2 linked regions of the Homo sapiens genome follow. The protein of the gene in region 1 purifies or fractionates together with the protein of each later gene. This does not show direct contact. Each region holds a gene or a part of one and is shown on either strand. Other genes may lie near its edges.

Region 1 (5,463 bases):
GTAAATAATTTTACATCTCCTTTTCCAGAAGGTAGTCACATGGTCTTACCTAGCTGCAAGGGAGGCCAGGAAATGTAATCTTTCTTACAGGAGACCTGTGCCCAACTAATGATCAAGTATTCTATTACTAAAAAATCAGAATGGGCCGGGCATGGTGGCTCAGGCCTGTAATCCAGCACTTTGGGAGGTCAAGGCGGTTGGATTACTTAGGGCCAGGAGTTCGAGACCAGCCTTTAGTAGAGATGGTGAAACCCCATCTCTACTAAAAATACAAAAATTAGCCAGGCATGGTGCTGCACGTTTGTAATCCCAGTTACTCGGGAGGCTGAGGCAGGAGAATTGCTTGAACTCGGGACATGGAGGTTGCAGTGAGCCAAGACTGTGCCACTGCACTCCAGCCTGGGCCACAGAGTGAGACCTTATTTCAAAAAGAAAAAAAAGAAAGAAACAGAATGGGTGTTGGGACAGACAACTAATAGACAACTAAGTATCTGTCACATGGTTTCTAAAAAGATTCAATATGCTTGTTTTTGAGGTTTGCAGGGGAAGTAGGAAGGGGTGCACATCATTTTTTTGTTTAATAGAGACAGGATCTCATTCTCTCGTGCAGGCTTGAGTGCAGTGGCAAGATCACAGCTCACTGTAGCCTTGAACTCCTGTCCTAGAGTGATCCTCCCAGGAGCCTAGGCTTCCCAAAGCACTAGAATTACAGATGTGAGCCACCTTAAAGCACCATTTACAAAACTGCTTAGCATCTTGTTTAGAGCTAAAAAATCCTTTGCTCACAATCAGCTTTCTAGACTGGGCACCCAAGCCTTCTTCCTCTGAGGGTTGAACACCATAGAAGTGGGCTTAACAGACTTGTATGGAAAAGAGAAGAAGTCATCTCCCCAACTGACTCTTGGATGTCTCAGTGGCCAAGTATACTCAAATTGTATATCTAAACCAATGAGCTTTATTGTTGTGGTTAAGCTTTAACTGTGAACAGCAACGTATCAATTTATTAATTACTACGCTTTTGTGCTGTGTGTTCCCTTTCTAGGTTATTTCCAGGGAAATGCAAACCAAAGGATGTGGTCTCTGATCTAATCCTTAGAGAATGTGACCATGAAGACACTTTTCCTACCTGGTAAACAAAAGATAATGAGAAAAGTGAGGTTGGAAGTTGGTTTACTGAGCCAGGAGCTATAACAGGTGCTGGAGCAGGGGTGTGATCTGAATGACCAGAGGGAAGGACTGATGGAATTGGATGGTGAGAGCCTCCAGGCCCTTTAGGCTTCTCCCTGACTTTATAATGAAATACAAAAGTCAGCCTCCATGCTTGTCCTTTGTGTGTAATGATTGTCAAACTCTGTCTATATGTGTTACATTTGACCTTGATGGTTAATTCATTATGTAATAAGTTCAGAATTTGGGACAGACACAGTGGCTCATGCCTGTAATCCCAGCACTTTGGGAGGTCGAGGTGGGCGGATCATCTGAGGTCAGGAGTTCGAGACCAGCCTGACCAACATGGAGAAACCCTGTCTCTACTAAAAATACAAAAAATTAGCCAGGCGTGATGGCACATGCCTGTAATCCCAGCTACTCGGGAGGCTGAGGCAGGAGAATCGCTTGAACTCGGGAGGCAGAGGTTGTGGTGAGCCGAGATCGCGCACATTGTACTCCAGCCTGAGCAACAAGAGCGAGACTCCATCTCAAAAAAAAAAAAAATTTAGAATTTGGTCCAAATTAGAAAACAGTTTCTCCCAGGAATGGCCTTGAATAGTGGTCAGCCTGCTTGGTTCTTTCTTCCTGACCTAGCAGCCCATGATTTGGGCTCTTTCCTCCTCTGGTTCAGGGGTGAGGGATGCTGTCACTCTCCAAGAGGGGGAACAGCTTGGGACCTAGCAGAGCTGCTCATCGGGGTTCTATTCCTCCCAGCCAGCGCCCTGACAAAGCCAGCCTCTGGATAAGAAACTAATTACTTCTCCTGCTTCTTCAGTTTGACCTCCTAAGGGAAGTAAGTCCTGCAGAAGTAACCAGCCTGCCGCGGCAGAATGCAGAGCAGGCACCAACTGCCCTGCAACTGCTTCCATAACCTGCAGATCCACCAGGGTGTCGGGGGCCCACATGCTGCAAAGCTTAGGAAGATGGGGTTTTCAATGGACATGCAGCTTTTAAAGTTGTGTGAGATAGGTTGCATTCAGAGTAAGGAAGGGTTGAAAGGCAGGAAGGGCATTTTCCTCTTAGCAGTGGAAGGATCTTCCTGACAGCCCTCCTTGCTTGCTTTCTGCCTGGCTCACTGCTTTCTCAGCAAGTTCCGGGAGGACTATGTCCTGGGGTTCCGAAAAGGGCTGGGGAATGTCCAGGCACGGATAAGGCACACAAGCTCTCTGGAGGAAAAGGGAGGCTCCTTTGCACTTCCCCTTCCTGCAGGTCTGTCCTGGTTTTTCATGATGTCATCCATTCATCATTGTGAGCTGACTGGTGGTCCCAGGGCTTGGCCAGCTGCCCAAGGCCAGGAGGGGAGACAGAGATCCCAGGACAAATGTGCAGCAGGCCCCTGAGCATGTGTAGAAATGTTGTCATCATTTCCACATAGAAAGACTTGGAGGAAATCAAAGAAGACAGTAAAAGTCACAAGATCCTATCCAACCTTCCCTTCCCTGAATGCCTGGGAAGAATTCAGGGGCCTCTTGCCTGTGGATGGAGAGCCGAACCCTGGAGCGGGCCTAGGTGTGGAGGAGGGACTGCTCTGCCGGGTGGTTCATTCTCCAGAATTCAACCTGTTTCTTGACTCCGTGGTGTTTGAAAGCAACTTCATCCAGGTATTCTTGGGTGGCGCAGAATAGCACTCTTTGATTCTTCGAAACCTGTTCCCAAGATATGACTGAGAGAGTCCATCCCTGAAACTGGGGCAGAGTGAGAATTGAGGCAAGGAGAAGCTAGTGGACCTGGAATGCAAGGCCACCCTCACTGACCTGGGCTTTGCTGAGCCCCAGACGGGGCTTCTCCTACAGACAGCTGTCACCCAGGGAGAAAGGTCAGGGGTCCTCTGCTCTGAGTGGAGAATTTGGTATCTAATCCCCCAGTTTACTTCAGCCCCCAGGCTGTCACCTGAAGTAGATGAACAAAGAGGCAGTAAAAAGAGACGCTTCTTGAGAACAATAATGCGGATTGGCGAAAGAACAGCACCTGGGGTCCCAGAGACAGCTGGGCTCAGATTCCAGTCCTCTGCCTTCTCCTTGGGAGGTGACTGTGCAAGTAACCTGTGCAGCCTGAATCTGGCCCCTTGATTGTAAAAGGGTTGAACTGACCTGAGGATGAAATGCAAATACAGCAAGAAAAGTACCTTGTCTAACAGGCACTCGGTGCACGTTCGTCTCCTTGCCTGGGCTCTCCTCTGGTTGGATGGAAGCGAGAATGAACAGCACTTTGGAGTTAGAGAGGACCTTCCTGTTCAGTGAAGGTGCAGGAGATAATAGGGCACCTCGGGGAAGGACCAAGAGGATACATTTTTCAAAGAAGGCCAGGAAACAGTCCAGGGAGGATTGGCAGAAATGACAGATGGCAGGGAACTCCTGGGTTGTAATTCCTGTGGGCAATTGTTAACAAATGGGTGGTTGAAATATTGTTTAAATACTAGTAGTTGTTTAATCAATATAGTGGCTATCAACAAGAATTGATTTTTGGCCCCAACTGCCAGGGAACATTTGACGATGTCTGGAGACATTTTTTATTGTCACGATTTGGCTGGTAGTGCTACTAGAACTAGTAGGTAGAGGTCAAGGATGCTACTAAGCATTCTTTAGTGTGCAGGGCAGTATCCTACCCTCAACAAAGAATATCCAACCCAAAACATTAATAGTGTCGAGGTTGAGAAACCCTGGGCTGAAACAGACTGCAGCTTTTGCCAAATGCTCAGGTTGTGCCTGGGGGCTGTGTTGCAGGTCAAAAGGGGCAGGAATTGGAGAGACGTCTACAAAGCTTCCAACACCATGGCCCTGGGGGTGACCTCCTCGGTACCCTGCCTGCCCCTCCCCAACATCCTACTCATGGCCAGTGTCAAATGGCACCAGGGGCAGAACCAGACATGGAACAGACCATCCATAGCCCCCAACATCTTCCTGAAGAGGTGAGCAATGCAGATGAGAATGGAGGACAAGAGGGGTGAGGGGTGGATGCAAAGTGGAGGTTGCTTGACTACTAAACTCAAGGAGAAGATAGAGATGTCATCAGCAGTGACATTGATTTTTTTAGACAACAGAGTATCCTAAGACAGGTGTTGCACTGGAAGGACAGAGGCCAAGTGGGACAAAGGGAGATGTCATGTGGACAGGAGTCAGGGGCTAGTCTACCTGCCCACTTTCTTTCTCGCTGCACAGACGCCACTGAATTCATAGGAAATCTCTCAGCATTGGGCCCAAGGGCAAGGAGGCAGTGAGTCTGGCAGATGGAGCACTGGTTGGGGAAAGGAGATTATTTCTAGTTCTTGGTGTACAACTAACTGGACTCAATTTTTAAAATCACAAGTTATTTGCTGCTCCTCAGTTTTCTTTGTCTTTTTCTTTTTCTTTCTTTCTTTTTTTTTTTTTTTGAGACTGAGTCTCAAAAAAGACTATCGCCCAGGCTGGAGTACAATGGTGGGATCTTGGCTCACTGCAACCTCTGCCTCACAGGTTTAAGTGATTCTCCTGCCTCAGCCTCCCGAGTAGCTGGGATTATAGGTGCCTGCCACCACACCTGGATAATTTTTGTATTTTTAATAGAGACAGGGTTTCACCATGTTGGCCAGGCTGGTCTTGAACTCCTGACCTCAGGTGACCCACCCTCCTCAGCCTCCCAAAGTGCTGGGATTACGGGCGTGAGCCACTGTGCCCGGCCAGGTTTTTTTTGTTTTTTTTTTTTAATCAGTAAAATAAATGGGACTAAGTCTCACTTAGAGCTGTAGCATATAGTGACATCATGCTTGTCTGGGACGAAGTAGCCTTTTTAAATTTTGGGGCCTCTTTAAATAATCTGTAGGATATCTCAAGAATCTCTAGAAATTCCCAAAAGTCCAAGAAAACCCTTCATTTCTCCATGCTACCTCAGTGACACACCTCTCCATGATGTTCTTGGTGTACCTCTAGCAAGTACCACCCAGTCCCAGCTGACTAATATTAGATCCAAAGCCAGATCCTTGAACTTTAACTCCCTTGGGAAGACTAACTGTGGCATTAAACTCAATAAATGCACAAGCCAGACAGTGGGGCAAGCTCCTTTGGTGCTTTCAAGAAAGAAATTTTGGCTGGGCGCGGTGGCTCGTGCCTGTAATCCCAGCACTTTGGGAGGCAGAGGCAGGTGGATCGCCTAAGGTCAGGAGTTCGAGACCAGCCTGACCAACATGATGAAACCTCGTCTCTACCAAAAATAAAAAATTAGACGGGCCTGGTGGCACATGCCTGTAATCCCAGCTACTGAGGAGGCTAGGGCAGGAGA
Region 2 (4,695 bases), on another chromosome or scaffold:
TTAAACTTGGATACCATCCCCAAGACATCTGAGTATGTATATGCAAATATTTCAAAATCTGAAATCTGAAACACTTCTGGTCCTACCTTGGGACCAGCATTTTAGATAAGGGATACTCAACCTGTATTGAATATAATAAGATGTCATTGAAGTTGCCATTTTTAACTTCAGGAAAATTTTTAAATGGTAAAAGGTTAATTAGATTCTGTGAAGTATGTAAATTAATTCTGACTCTTAAAGTATACTGGGAGAGGCAAGGAGTTGTCTAGAGATTTGGGTTCCAGTACTGCTGTTAACTAGGTCGGTGATGTCCAAGTATTTGGTAATGTAACTGTTTTATGTCTTAGTGGTTCTCTCTAAACAATAAAGATTGCAGTCAATATATATTAACTACCATTTATTAAACACTTGCTGTGTGTCCCAGGTGCTATGCCAAACATCTTACATAAAGGTTCCATCAAGCTCTAAAATTGTAGGTATGAAATATCCCTGTTAACCTTTTGAGGACATTAATGTATTAATCTTGAATCATTGAAATATCTTGCTGCCCACTTCAGGTATATTATAAAATTAGCTTTAATTCCCTGGACTTAAGCAGAGATGTGGGTTCTGTGTATTTTCAAACATCTGTGTTATATAGTAAGATGATGTTTGATATTTTAAAATATTTATCTTCCCTGTCCTCCCCCTGCTTTTTTTTTTATACAGCTACCTGTACTACAGAAACATGGAATAACCCATATAATATGCATACGACAAAATATTGAAGCAAACTTTATTAAACCAAACTTTCAGCAGTTATTTAGGTAAGAATTATTGCTATGATTTGTAAAACACTTAATGAAGTTTCATTTCAGGTTTTGTACCATCAGTTGTTTCTGTACATATCTAGTTTGTAAAAATGGGTCATATAGTACATAGTTTTTTAAAATAAATTTTACTTAAAATACTTAAATAAATTATGCCCATAATGCAGAATTCTAAAGGTTCAAAAGAGTGTATATTGTCAAGAAGTTTCTGGGAAAGTAAAAATAAAAAAGAATTTAAAAATAATGTATACTGAAAAATAGGTTTTAGTGTACATTATTTTATCTCTTGAGGGATAAAGGAATTGAGTATCTAGGGGATAGGTTTAGGGAAACAGCATCTACTGTTACCTCTTTATTGGGTAGTTTTTGAGTGTTAGGTTAAATTTATGAGCATAGTCTTATAGATAAATTTTTTTTTACATTGGCTTTCTTTTTTACTTTATATTTTTTGGAGATTGGTTTATATCGGTATGTATATCAAACTGCTTATTCTTTTTAAGTTGCATTGTAATCCATTGTATGGCTATACTAAAATTTATTCAATTAGTCTGTTAGATATTTAGATTGTTTCTGGCCTTGTACTAATATGTATAGCATATAGTGACTATCATTGTACATATTACTCAATTTATATGTGAGCATATTGATAGGGCTTATTTGCAGAATTGCTGGATATAAGAGTATGAACATTTTAAATTTTGATAGATGTTGCAGATTGTTTTCCAGTGCGTTGTATCAGTGTACATTCCCATTATCAAGTATGTGAGAGTGACTCTTCCCTTAGTATCTCTCCAAGACGGAATTGTGAAACATTTTTAATTTCTCAAAGTCTAATGGAGTAAAAATGGTATCTCATTTGATGTTCTTATTTATCTTGTAAGTTCAGTTGAGCATGTAATGGTTTTTAATGTTCTTTATTTTAACTTCATTTTTAAAATAGAGTATATTACGCATGGTACAAAAGTGAAAGGATATGTAAACATATATAATGAAAGTAACTCTACTTTTTCTCTTAACCCAAGCCACCTTGCTCCTATCCTGGGAGGCAGCTTCTTCCTTCAATATCTATGTAAAAGTATATATGTTAAAAATATTTTAGGCCAGCACGGTGGCTCACGCCTGTAATCCCAGCATTTTGGGAGGCCGAGGTGGGCAGATCACCTGAGGTCAGGAGTTCGAGACCAGCCTGGCCAACATGGCAAAACCCCATCTCTACTAAAACAAAAATTACCTGAGCGTGGTGGCACATGCCTGTAATCCCAGCAGCTCAGGAGACTGAGGCAGGAGAATTGCTTGAACCCAGAAGGCAGAGGTTACAGTGAGCCGAGATCACACCACTGCACTCCAGCCTGGGCAACAGAGCAAGACACCGTCTCAAAAACAAAACAAAACAAAACAAAAAAAAAACAGCGCTGTGGCTTACACCTATAATCCCAGTACTTTGGGAGGCTGAGGAGGGTGGATCACGAGGTCGAGATTGAGACTGTCCTGGCCAACACAGTGAGACCCCGTCTCTACTAAAAATACAAAAATTATCTGGGCGTGGTGGCACATGCCTGTAGTCCCAGCTACTCAGGAGGCTGAGGCAGGAGAATCACTTGAACCTGGGAGGCAGAGGTTTCAGTGAGCCAAGATTGCCCCACTGCACTCCAGCCTGGCGACAGAGCAAGACTCTGTCTCAAAAATAAAAAAAAAAATTTAATGCTCTGCTTTATTTTTACAATGAAACCAATCTATAAATATCTGTAAATACAAGATACATACTCTAAAATACATTGTGTGAACATATAATAGAATACTATGTAACCATGAAAAAGAATGAAATATATGTATGTGTTTGGATTTGGGATGATCTCCAAGATAATGCATTACATGAATAAAGCAGGGTGTGGAACAATGTATATATTTGCAATGTGTTGAGTAAATATATATATACTACATTCCATATATTTATTCTTAATATATGCATAGAAAATTTCTGGACCAAGAGGCTAGAAACTTCATAGTGATTGCTTCTAAGAAGGAAAATTCAGGGCCTGTGATGGTAGAGGGACGTATTTTTCTTTCGTTTTTAATTTTGTTTTTTTTTGTTGTTGTTGTTTTTTTTTTTTTTTTGAGATGGAGTCTCACTCTGTCACCCAGGCTGGAGTGCAGTGGTGTGATCTTGGCTCACTGCAACCTCTGCCTCCTGGGTTCAAGCGATTCTCCTGCCTCAGCCTCCTGAGTAGCTGGGATTACAGGCATGTGCCACCACACCCAGCTAATTTTTTTTTTTTTTTTTTTTTTGGACAGAGTTTCGCTCTGTTGCCCAGGCTGGAGTGCAGTGGCATGATCTCGGCTCACTGCATCCTCCGCCTCCCAGGTTTAAGCAATTCTCTGCGTCAGCCTTCTAAGTAGCTGAGATTACAGGTGCCCACCACCACTCCCAGATAATTTTTTTTGTATTTTTAGTAGAGACGGGGTTTCAGCATCTTGGCCAGGCTGATCTTGAACTCCTGACCTCTTGATCCACCTGCCTCAGCCTCCCAAAGCACTGGGATTACAGGTGTGAGCCACCGCACCTGGCCTAATTTTTGTATTTTTAGTACAGACGGGGTTTCACCATGTTGGCCAGGCTGGTCTCGAACTCCTGACCTCGTGATCTGCCCACCTCGGCCTCCCAAAGCACTGGGATTTACAGGCGTAAGCCACTACGCTCAGCCGAGGGACATATTTTTCATGGTACCCTTGATATCCATGGGGGATTGCCTCCAGGAACCCCCATGAATAACAAAATCCTCAGATGCTCAAGTCCCTTATATAAACTGGTGTAATATTTGCATATAACCTGTGCACATTCTCTCATATACATTAAATCATCTCTAGATTACTTCTAATACTTAGTACAGTGTAAGTGCTGTGTGAATAGTATTGGATTTTATTTTTATTATTTTTAGTGTTGTATTTTACCTTATTTTTTGTTAATGTTTTTTATTGTTGTCGGTTGAATCCACAGGTATGAAATTCTTGGATATGGAGGGCTGACTCTTTACTTTTGTAGTGTTTTTTTTTTACACCATATTTAGTTTATTAAAACTAGTTATTAAAAAGGAATATCCCAAAACACTGATTTTTTTTTTTTTTTTTTTTTTTTTTTGAGACAGAGTCTCGCTCTGTCATCCAGGCTAGAATGCAGGGCTCACTGCAACCTCTGCCTCCCAAGTTCAGGCAATTCTTCTGCCTCAGCCTCCTGAGTAGCAGAGATTACAGGCATGTGCCACCACGCCTGGCTAATTTTTGTATTTTTAGTAGAGACGGGGTTTCACCATGTTGGTCAGGCTGGTCTCAAACTCCTGACCTCGTGATCCGCCTGCCTTGGCCTCCCACAGTGCTGGGATTACAGGCGTGAGCCACTGCGCCCGGCCTGAATTTTTTATAATTATGAAAGAAATACTTTTTTTTTTTTCAAAGATAGGATCTTTCTCTGCTGCCCAGCCTGGATTGCATTGGCATGATTTCTGTTCATTGTAGCCTTGACCTCCCAGGCTCAAGCAATCTTCCTGCCTCAGCCTTCCAAGTAGCTGGGACTACAGGTGCACCACCGGATCGGGCTAATTTTTTTTTTTTTTTTCTAGAGATGGGGTTTTGCTGTGTTGCCCAGGCTGTTCTTGAACTCCTGAGCTTAAGCGATCTACCCACCTCAGCCTCCCAAAGTGCTGGGGTTACAGGCATGAGCCACCACACCTGGCCATGAAACACTTATTCTTTATAAGTACTTCGGAAGGTATAGAATGACACCAAGAAAAATATTTAAATCATCTACAGTTCCACAATTCAGAGAAAACACTTTTGTTAACATTTGGAATATTTCCTTTTAAATCGTTCTCTGTTGTGTATGTGTATTTAC

Evidence for each region. Proteins that work in one complex are often made in the same cells at the same time.
Region 2: the proteins of GARIN1B (region 1) and STYX purify together in Homo sapiens (affinity purification with mass spectrometry; one large-scale study listed by BioGRID and IntAct). This does not show direct contact.

What each region holds. Positions count from the first base shown.
Region 1 is NC_000007.14:128,712,881-128,718,343, forward strand, and holds the start of GARIN1B (Golgi-associated RAB2 interactor protein 1B), read left to right. Parts: upstream 1-2,510; 5' UTR 2,511-2,561; coding exon 2,562-2,810; intron 2,811-2,819; exon of another isoform or gene 2,820-3,451; intron 3,452-3,932; coding exon 3,933-4,117; intron 4,118-5,463. UniProt on the Homo sapiens protein: RAB2B effector protein required for accurate acrosome formation and normal male fertility. In complex with RAB2A/RAB2B, seems to suppress excessive vesicle trafficking during acrosome formation.
Region 2 is NC_000014.9:52,749,975-52,754,669, forward strand, and holds part of STYX (serine/threonine/tyrosine-interacting protein), read left to right. Parts: intron 1-708; coding exon 709-806; intron 807-4,695. UniProt on the Homo sapiens protein: Catalytically inactive phosphatase. Acts as a nuclear anchor for MAPK1/MAPK3 (ERK1/ERK2). Modulates cell-fate decisions and cell migration by spatiotemporal regulation of MAPK1/MAPK3 (ERK1/ERK2).